2 separate regions of the Homo sapiens genome follow, and region 2 is linked to region 1. Evidence: fine-mapped expression QTL. A gene starts in region 1. The other region holds a variant in brackets. All regions are shown on one strand. Distances are between the middles of the regions. Region 1 holds the start of GRK1 (G protein-coupled receptor kinase 1). Region 2 overlaps TFDP1 (transcription factor Dp-1).

Region 1 (5,360 bases):
AGGGCTGGGCCCGTGCAGGGCTCCTGGTGAACGATGGGATATCACTCACCTCAAATATTTACTCGTGATCCACCTGCCAAAGCCCTCAGGAGACCGTGGGGACGTCGGCTCGGTCTGCGGGCCCTCGCTTCGGCCTCTGTAGACCCTGCCAGGTGCAGCCCCCAGTGCCCTCCCACAGTTGCCTCTTCTCCCACGTGGAATGGGGTGGGCTGACAGTCTCCACCTCTCTATGCTCCGGCATTCTTCCTTTCTGCGACCCTTTGCTTCCTCCCTGTGTGAGCTGGAACCAATCCCCTGCTGAATTCCTCCTCATTCTTCTCCAAACCTTTATTGAGTACCTACTGTGTGCTGGAATAAGACAGGCAGGGCCATGCCCTCATGAAGCTGACAATCCTATTGGTGTGACCATCCCCAGGTGTGTCCCAGGTGTGTTGCAGGTGTGTCCGAGGTATGCCCCAGCTGTCCCAGGTGTGCCCCAGCTGTCTCAGATGTGCCCCAGCTGTCCCAGGTGTGTCACAGCTGCATTGCAGGTGTGCCCCAGTTGCATTCCATGTGTGCTCCAAGTGTGTACCAGCTGTCCCAGGTGTGTCTCAGGTGTGCCCCAGCTGTATCCCAGGTGTGCCTCAGCTGTCTTAGGTGTGTCTCAGGTGCATCCCAGGTGTGTCTCAGATGTGCCCCAGCTGTCCCAGGTGTGCCCCAGCTGTCCCAGGTGTGCCCCAGCTGTCTCCAGTGTGTCCCAGCTGTGCCCCAGGTGTGTGTCCTAGGTGTGCCTCAGCTGTCTCAGGTGTGCCCCAGGCATATCCCAGGTGTGCCCCAGCTGTCCCAGGTGTGTCCTACGTGTGCACCAGCTGTATCCCAGGTGTGCCCCAGGTGTGTCTCAGATGGGTCCCAAGTGTTCCCCAACTGCATTTCAGGTGTCTCAGGTGTGCCCAAGCTGTCCCAGGTGTGTCCAAGATGTGCCCCAGGTGTGTCTCAGGTGGGTCTCAAGTGCCCCAGCTGCATTTCAGGTGTCTCAGGTGTGCCCCCCAGTGCATCCCAGGTGTGTCCCAGGTGTGCCCCAGGTGCATCCCAGGTGTGTCCCAGGTGTGCCCCAGCTGTCTCAGGTGTCTCAGGTGTGCCCCAGGCATATCCCAGGTGTGCCTCAGCTCTCCCAGGTGTGTCCTACATGTGCACCAGCTGTATCTCAGGTGTGTCTCAGGTGTGCCCCAGATGTGCCCCCGGTGTGTCTCAGGTGGGTCCCAAGTGTTCCCCAGCTGCATTTCAAGTGTCTCAGGTGTGCCCCAGGTGTGCCCCCGCTGTCCCAGGTGTGTCCAAGATGTACCCCAGGTGTGTCCCAGCTGTCCCAAGTGTGTCTCAGGTGTGCCCCAGGTGTGTTCCAGGTGTTCCCCAGCTGTCCCAGCTGTCCCAGGTCTCAGGTGTGCCCCAGGTGTGTTCCAGGTGTTCACCAGCTGTCCCAGCTGTCCCAGGTCTCAGGTGTGCCCCAGGTATGTTGCAGGTGTTCCCCAGCTGTCCCAGCTGTCCCAGGTGTGTCCCAGGTGTTCCCCAGGTGTGTCCCAGCTGTCCCAGGTGTGTCCCAGATGTGCCCCAGGTGTACCCCAGGTGTTTCTCAGGTGGATTCCAGGTGTGTCCCAGGTGAGCCCCAGCTGTATTCCATATGCGTCCCTCTGAGTGGGGCCTTGGTTTGATGTAGCTCCGGGGATCTTCTGCTCCCTGGTCCTGGTGTCACCAGCAACTGCCTCTTGACAATCCTGCCTTGCCTGCAAACCCCAGGTGAGAAGAAGACAAATGACTGGGAACTGACCCCTCAGTAAGCGCTGGTGGTCTCACCTACAGACCCCCAGGAAGCTGGTCACTGTGGGCTTCTTTTCCTCTCTAAATTCCTATTATCAGGTGGTTTTCTTTCTCATTTGCTATTTTCTTAAAAATAAAAATAGGGAAAAACAGCCTTTGTAAATTACGGTTTCTTCCGGCTCCATCCTCTCCGTCAGGCCCACATCCCAAGGAAACAGCAGGCTTGAGCCTGGCTGCTGAAGCCAGGGGCTGGATGGAGCAGCTCAGAACAGAGCTTTGAGTGCCTCTCCAGCCAGGGGCCCCAGAAGCCTGGTGGTTGTTTGTCCTTCTCAGGGGAAAAGTGAGGCGGCCCCTTGGAGGAAGGGGCCGGGCAGAATGATCTAATCGGATTCCAAGCAGCTCAGGGGATTGTCTTTTTCTAGCACCTTCTTGCCACTCCTAAGCGTCCTCCGTGACCCCGGCTGGGATTTAGCCTGGTGCTGTGTCAGCCCCGGGCTCCCAGGGGCTTCCCAGTGGTCCCCAGGAACCCTCGACAGGGCCAGGGCGTCTCTCTCGTCCAGCAAGGGCAGGGACGGGCCACAGGCCAAGGGCAGCAGTCAGGCCTGCTCTGTCTGTGAACGCTCCCGGCTTGGCCTCGGCTGATGGGCCCTCACGCCTGAAGCGGGCAGGAAGCTCCGGGATGGATTTCGGGTCTTTGGAGACCGTGGTGGCCAACTCTGCCTTCATCGCCGCCCGAGGCAGCTTTGACGGCAGCAGCTCCCAACCCTCCCGGGACAAGAAGTACCTGGCCAAGCTCAAGCTGCCCCCGCTGTCCAAGTGTGAGTCCCTCCGCGACAGCCTCAGCCTGGAGTTTGAGAGTGTGTGCTTGGAGCAGCCCATCGGCAAGAAGCTCTTTCAGCAGTTCCTACAATCGGCAGAGAAGCACCTGCCGGCCCTGGAGCTCTGGAAAGACATCGAGGACTATGACACGGCAGACAATGACCTCCAGCCACAGAAGGCCCAGACCATCCTGGCCCAGTACCTGGACCCCCAGGCCAAACTCTTCTGCAGCTTCCTGGATGAGGGGATAGTGGCGAAGTTTAAGGAGGGGCCTGTGGAGATCCAGGACGGGCTCTTCCAGCCCCTGCTGCAGGCCACCCTGGCACACCTGGGCCAAGCCCCCTTCCAGGAGTACCTGGGCAGCCTGTACTTCCTGAGGTTCCTGCAGTGGAAGTGGCTGGAAGCCCAGCCCATGGGGGAGGACTGGTTCCTGGACTTCAGGGTCCTAGGGAAAGGGGGCTTCGGGGAGGTGTCGGCCTGCCAGATGAAGGCGACCGGCAAGCTGTATGCCTGCAAGAAGCTGAACAAGAAGCGGCTGAAGAAGAGGAAGGGCTACCAGGTGAGCAGCGCGACCCGGCCAGCAGGGATGGGGTGGCAGGGTGCAGGGATGGGGCGGCAGGGTGCAGAGGGCCCCCAGGTCACTGTCGGCTCCGGGGCCCTTAACAGCTGGTGCCTAAGGGAGCATGCATGCCAGCCTCGCCACGTGGGCGCCCCGCGGCCGTGCGGTTACGAGCAGTTCCAGTCCATGTGCAGAAGTCCCTCCTCGGAGAGTGACCTCCACATTTTTGGGTGGGGACGTGCCACGTTCACTCGTCGGTTTTTCACCAACCACAGACTAGCCTCAAGTGTGGGGGAAAGAGGACCTCTCAGGGGAGGCTGAAGAGGGGCAGGGTCTCCGGATTCTTTGCCATGACTGTGGAAGACTTTCCAGGGCCCTGGCTCCTCTGATCGCAGCGAATGCAGGAGGAACTGAGGCAGGACGGAGGCAGCCTCGCTCTGATGACAGTTTCTGTGAGGCAGAGCCTGGCGTGACGCCGGGGGCAGGAACTGTTCCCCTGAGTGTGCTGTCCTCGGGGGTGGGAGTGAGCGACGGGCACGCAGGCCGCTCTAAGTTTCATCCGCTCTGCCCACTGGCGTCAGACTGTGCATCTGGGGCAGGATCAGCAGAAGCTGCTTACAGGTCTTAAGGGTGAGGGGCAGCGGCTGTGCCGGGTGTGGACGTGATCTCCTGAGCCAGCCCCCTGCACTTTGACTCCACGTGGCTCCTGGCCCCTCTCCCACCACGCAGCTGTGTTGAGTGCACAGGAAGCTCTTAGGGTTAAGCAGCAGCCACTGTGCACCCTGGCTCTGCGGAACCTCAACCCTCAGTGAAGGTGAAATACCAGGTGCTCACAGCGCTGGGCGGAGGCCCTGGAACATCTGCGTGTTCTCGCCGTGGAACTCGGGGCGAGTAACTATGCTGTGTGGTTGTAGCAGTAATTTTTAAAAATTAGCTTTCTTGACATCTAATTCCCCCACCGTGCCATTCACATCTAACTGTAAATTTAACCCAACATTCAGCCTCTTTTCCTGACTTCCGTCACCAAACTGAACTCCATACTGACATCAACTGAACACCTCCCCATGTAAGTGCAGAAAGGGGCCTCCGACATCAGGAATTCCCTCTTCAAAGAGGGATGTGCTATCCTTATCCAGACACTTACAAACTCGTTCAATGGAGCATTGTGAGGTTTCAAAATAAAGACAAAATGAAGCAGAGTGGTGAGGGGGTTTGGGAGGTGCTGGTCTGGGAGCCCAGCCCACGGGGGCCTGGACAGGAGGGAGGGCTGTGGCTGCAGGATTGCTGGGCAGGCGGGGCTGGCAGGGTCCTCACCCATGTTGCTCAGCCTTGGGGCTTGAGCCTCCCCTTGCCAGAGGCTGGCCCAGAAGACCAGAAGTCCCCTGTATGTGAAGGAATTCACATGTCTGGTTTTCTGAAATGGGGGTGCAGGCATGTTTTGAAGTCATTTGCAATTGCTTTGTGAAAGGCGCATTTAAAGCATGTTTGCGACTGCTCCGTGGCTGTGTGCAGTGGGCGTGGCCGGGTGCACACGGTCTCTGCGATGCACCTAGTCCCTTTCCTATTCAAAGCCAGTGCGTACTCAGCGTCTCACTTTTCAGGGTGCTATGGTGGAGAAGAAGATTCTGATGAAAGTACACAGCAGGTTCATCGTGTCTCTGGCCTATGCGTTTGAAACCAAAGCCGACCTCTGTCTGGTGATGACCATCATGAACGGAGGTGACATCAGGTAAGGGCTGGGCCAGAGGGCACGAGGGGGCCCCGCTGTCCCACTGGGTCAGGGTTTCCAGGGCCCGGGCTCCTTTCCACAGGCAGAGCCATGGTGGCCCCAGGCCTGCCCTCGAGGGAAGCCTTGCACCCATCACAATCCCCTTCTCGCTGTTGGTTCCTGAAACAATGCACCCTGGACCCACATCGGAGCAGGAGCCTGGGAGGCGCCCAACCTGACAATCAGGGCTCGTCCTGTGTGTGGTCTTGGTGTGGGTGTGGGAGGCACGTGGTGCTGTGGGGGACGTGTGATGCAGTCGGCGGGGCCTCTGCAGGGCTGAGGGCCTTGCACCAGGAGGGTAAATGAAGACGAACTTCACCAGCGCCCACTCCTAGGGCTGACCCTAGAGCTGGAGACAAGATCAGTCCAGCTGGGGGCCGTGATCTTGCTGTCCCCAGGCAGAGAGGAGGTGGCGCTGCCTCC
Region 2 (5,360 bases), 66 kb before region 1:
AATACACATGTACAGTACGGAATTCTAAATAAATGAACTCACATGTTTTGTTCACTGCTATGTTTTACTCAACAGTTTGTCCTAGGTTTTTTTTTTTCACATCAATAAATATAAGCAGAGATAATTCTAAAAAATTTGTGGAACGTTTCAGACACACACAAAGGAGAGAGATTGTGCTGGTGCCTCGTCCCTGTCACGGACCTGGGTGACTCCCTGCCGGGCCAGGGTGATCATTAAGTAGTTATTAAATATTCTGACATGTGTCTCTCAGAGATAGTCATTCACTCTTATTGTCACATAGGCAGCATTTACATTTCTCAAGTTGTCTCAAATTTGGAAAGTTTGTTTGCATTGGAGCCTCGCCCCCTCCAGGCTGCTGGAGTCTGGTCTCGCTGATGCGCCCTCACGTACTCCACCCTGTTGATGGGCTGCCCTGGCTGAATGTTCATCCTTCGAAACCCTCAAAGGTGTTGGGTGTTGGGGCCTTTGGGAGTGACTAGAATTGAGTGAGGGCACGCGGGTGTAGTCCCCCCTGCCCTGTTGGATCAGTGTCCTGATAGCCAGTCCCCACGGCGAGCCTGCCCTTTTCCCACCTTGCGAGGCCCAAGGAGGAGGTAGTAGGTGCAGCCTGGAAGCTGGCTCTGCCCTGACCTCCCGCTTCCACATCCAGGACCGTGAGAGAGAATCCTTGCACTTAGGGCTCCAGGACTACGAGAGAGAACCCAGGACCGTGAGAGAGAACCCAGGACCATGAGAAAGAACCCAGGACCGTGAAAGAGAACCCTTGTGCTTAGGGCTTCAGGACTGCCAGAGAGAATCCTTGTATGTAGGGCTCCAGAACCGTGAGAGAGAACCCAGGACTGTGATAAAGAATCCTTGCACGTAGGGCTCCAGGACCATGAGAGAGAGCCCAGGACCGTGAGAGAGAATCCTTGTATGTAGGGCTCCAGAACCGTGAGAGAGAACCCAGGACTGTGAGAGAGAATCCTTGCACGTAGGGCTCCAGGACCATGAGAGAGAACCCAGGACCGTGAGAGAGAATCCTTGTATGTAGGGCTCCAGAGCCGTGAGAGAGAACCCAGGACCGTGAGAGAGAATCCTTGCACGTAGGGCTCCAGGACCGTGAGAGAGAACCCTCGTGCTTAGGGCTCCAGGACCATGAGAGAGAACCCTCACACATAGGGCTCCAGGACCGCGATAGAGAACTCAGGACCGTGAGAGAGAACCCTTGCACGTAGGGCTCCAGGACCATGAGAGAGAACCCTCACACATAGGGCTCCAGGACCGCGATAGAGAACCCAGGACCGTAAGCGAGAATCCTTGCACTTAGGGCTCCAGGACTGTGAGAGAGAACCCTTGCACATAGGGCTCCAGGACTGCAAGAGAGAACCCAGAACCATGAGAGAGAATCCTTGTACGTAGGGCTCCAGGACCATGAGACAGAACCCTCACGTGGGGATCCAGGACCGCGATAGAGAACTCAGGACTGCAAGAGAGAACCCAGGACCCAGGACCGTGAGAGAGAATCCTCGCACGTGGGGCTCCAGGACCATAAGAGAGAACCCTTACACGTAGAGCTCCAGGACCGTGATAGAGAACTCAGGATGGTGAGAGAGAATCCTTGCATGTAGGGCTCCAGGACCATGAGAGAGAACCCTCACGTAGGGCTCCAGGACCGCGATAGAGAACCCAGGACCGTGAGAGAGAATCCTTGCACGTAGGGCTACAGGACCGTGAGAGACAACCCTCACACGTAGAACTCCAGGACCGTGATAGAGAACTCAGGACTGCAAGAGAGAACCCAGGACCCAGAACCGTGAGAGAGAATCCTCGCACGTGGGGCTCCAGGACCATGAGACAGAAGCCTTGCACGTAGGGCTCCAGGACCACGAGAGAGAACCCTCCTGCTCTTCCCACTTGATGCTTTTGCTCACTCGGAGCGTGTTTGTGAGATGAGCCTTCACGCTGTCCTGGATCTTCTCCAGATGCGAGGTTCTTTTCTGCTGCATCCCTCCTCTGTGGTGGCACCATCTCCTCTTGCCTGAGGTGGGGAGGTGTTGGCCTCCGTAGCTGAGAAGGGCTGGGCCTGGCGGTCACCCAGCGTCTCCTGCCTGGACTTAGCAACTTGAACCAGCAGCGTCTGTCACCTCCTAGTGCCTGTTAGGAGCCCAGGTCCCCGTTCAGCCTGTCCCGGGCGGCCCTGGCCTGTGGTGCCCTGAGTTGGTCTGGGCAGGACCACTTTCAAATTAACTCACCCGGCTGCTGGTGGGATCCCGCTCCTTGTGGGCTGTTGGTGGGGGTGTGTTCTTGCACTTTGCCTTGTGGGCCCCTGCGTAGGGCAGCTCGCTGGTGGCTTCCTCAGGGTGAGCCAGCAAGGTCAGAGTCGGTCTCTTGAGGCCACCCTCACCCTCACCAGGCTCTGGTGCTTGGTGGGAGCAGGGCAGGGCAGCCCACTTGGGGGCCCCTGCAGGGCCAGGGCACTGGAAGGGATGGCTAGGGCCACCGGAGGTCGTCCCTGAGCTCTGGGGTTGTGTTTGTTCCCAGGTGTGCTCTCCAGGGTCCAGGAGGACTCGTGGGAGCTCGAGGCTGGGGTCCCAGGCCCGGCCCCAGAGGAAGGGCCTGTGGCCAGGTGCGCGGAAGGTGCTGGCTATTTGTGGTGGGCAACCCAACAGCCAAAAGGGAGGAGCAGAGAGAGTTCTCCGCAGGAGTTGATGGGGGAGCAGACAGAGTTACCCGCAGGAGTTGAGGGAGGAGCGGATGGAGTTACCTGCAGGAGTCGAGGGAGGAGCGGAGAGAGCTACTCCCTCTGTAGCTCTGAGAGGAGGACAGAGCTACTCCCTCTGTAGCTCTGAGAGGAGGACAGAGCTACTCCCTCTGTAGCCCTGTAGCGGACAGAGGAGGGACGGAGCTACCCGCAGGAGTCGAGGGAGGAGCGGACAGAGTTACCTGAAGGAGTTCAGGGAGGAGTGGATGGAGTTACCCACAGCAGTCGAGGGAGAAGCGGATGGAGTTACCCGCAGGAGTCGAGGGAGGAGTGGACAGAGTTACCCGCAGGAGTTGAGGGAGGAGTGGACGGAGTTACCCACAGGAGTCGAGGGAGGAGTGGACGGAGTTACCCGCAGGAGCTGAGGGAGGAGCGGACGGAGTTACCTGCAGGAGTCGAGGGAGGAGTGGACTGAGTTACCTGCAGGAGTCGAGGGAGGAGTGGACAGAGTTACCCGCAGGAGTTGAGGGAGGAGTGGATGGAGTTACCTGCAGGAGTCGAGAGGGGAGCGGATGGAGTTCTCCGCACGAGTCAAAGGAGGAGCGGAGAGAGTTCTGTGCAGGAGTCCCGTGCTGGGGCCAGGAGGGTCCTGGTAGCAGGCGGGGCCCATCCCAGCTGCT[G/GT]TTTATAGAGTGGCCTCTTCCCCAGGTCTCTTCATTCATTATGCAGTTTAATGTGCAGTGCAAGTGTTTTCTGCCCTGGGGTCTGGCGCAGGCCACTCCAGTCCTCAGGGGGATCCCTCAGTGCAGCTGGGTCACTTTCTTCTCAGCTCTGCTTACTTTTGAAATTAAGATTGTTCCTTGACACTTTTATGGCTGTTGCGTAGGCAGAGTTGAGTGGCTGTGACAGAGACTGGGTGACCCTCAAGCCTGAATCATTTGCAGGGTCCCCCCTGAGAAGTGTGCGGCCCTGGCGTCCCTCTCTCCAGCCCTGCCCTGGGCCTGGCTTGTGAACCTGTGATGTCGGGACTGCAGGGCCCCTGCTGGGCCGTTTTCTTACCAGGCAAAATTCCTGCTTCACAGAGTTGATGCCAGGGGTGTCAAATCTTTTGTTTTCCCTGGGCCACATTGGAAGAAGAATTGTCTTGGGCCACATAAAATAGAATAACACTAACAATAGTTGAGCTAAAAAAAAAAAAAAAACGTATAATTTACAAATTTGTGTTGGGCTGCATGCAGAGGTGTCCTGGACCACATGCAGCCTGCAGGACACAGGTCGGATAAGCCTGGTTTATACTCTAGTGGGGAGCTGTTAGCAATGGAAATGGTCAGTTGTTCAGTAGATTAGAAAGTGCAGAGAAGAGCAGGGCAGAGAAGGGTGAGACAGCGTGGGGTCCAGGTGTATGCCCCACCTGGCTGCTGTGTGTTGCTTGCTGACCCCCTCATGGGCCTTCGAGTGTAAGGGAGAGTCCTCTTCATGCCCTCGCACCCTCCTGGGTCTCTAGGGCTTGTGTGTCCCCAGGGGAGGAGCCCCCTGGACACACCCTGGCGGGTGCTGGCTGGCAAAGAGGGAGGCGTTGAGGGCCCGGGCAGCGCCTCCATCCTGGCCAGGCAAGTGCAGCTTCAGGTTGTGAGAACCGTGGTCACCTGTGTGTTTTAAAGATGACGGCAGTGATAGGTCCCCTTTTGGGCCTGGCATGGAAATTAGTCACATTCGTAGACCCTGTCACAGAGTGGGCACTGGTGATGTCATCTTTTATAGTTCTTATTTTCAATTGATTCAGCTTTTTCTAGCAGCATGGCGTGTTTTACGAACGTGTGTTTTGCTGTTACTGCTGCTACTCATAGTATGGTTTTGTCTAATGTAAGACAGAAGAGAATAATCTACTGTTATCTCCATGAAGTACAAACACAAATACAGTTGAATATAGTTTTTCTAATAGAAATTAAGGTTAGTTTTAGCCAAGGAGCACCTTTGCTGTTGGCTTATATGTTAATGTGTTTAGCACCTTGAGGTGTCCTTACTGGCAGGTAGGGTTGCATCTTGAGTGTAAAGATTTAACAGGAAAATAAGTCCAGTGCACATGTCTTAAAATTAATAGCAATTTCAGCAATATGTTAAAAACACGAAGCTAGGCCAGGCGTGGTAGCTTACACCTGCTTGAGCCCAGGAGTTCGAGACCAGCCTGGGCAGCGTAATGAGACCTCGTCTCTACTACAAATAAAAAAAAATTAGCCAGGCATGGGGTGCATGCCTGTCCCAGCTACTTTGGAGGCTGAGGTGAAAGGATGGCTTGAACCGGGAAGGTCAAGGCTGCAGTGAGCTGAGATCTTACCACTGCACCCTAGCATGGGTGACAGAGTAACAGCCTGTCTCAAAAAAAAAAAAAAAAAAGGCAAATTAAACTATTTGTGTTTTGGTGGTGCTTGTTACTGAGTTCCTGTGGGTCACAGCCCACAAGAAATGCAAGGAGGACCCACATGAGGGTCTTTCCTACAGCTCCTTACATGCTCAAGCTGGTAATTGTGGTCTAGTAGTAGCTACTGAATATCAACCCATAAGAATGACTTCATATTAAAAAACCACAGAGGCTATAATTGGGTCTGTCTTAGTAAGTTCTAAAGTGTCAGTAGAGACCCAGACTCACACCCACACTCCT

What was found. PIP is the estimated chance that this variant, and not a neighbour inherited with it, causes the effect.
Region 2: its variant is the best candidate, but not a certain one, in a credible set for the expression of GRK1 in lung (TOPMed, PIP 0.82).

Annotation. Positions count from the first base shown.
Region 1 is chr13:113,664,917-113,670,276 of GRCh38, forward strand. GRK1 (G protein-coupled receptor kinase 1) reads left to right here and starts at 2,303. Exons shown (of 7, transcript NM_002929.3): 1 at 2,303-3,169; 2 at 4,771-4,898. The coding sequence starts at 2,471.
Region 2 is chr13:113,599,084-113,604,443 of GRCh38, forward strand. The region is part of intron 2 of TFDP1 (transcription factor Dp-1); the gene reads left to right. Among named protein-coding and RNA genes, the nearest start is that of TFDP1, 17 kb to the left of the region's middle. The variant G/GT (reference allele first, on the strand shown) is at 3,385.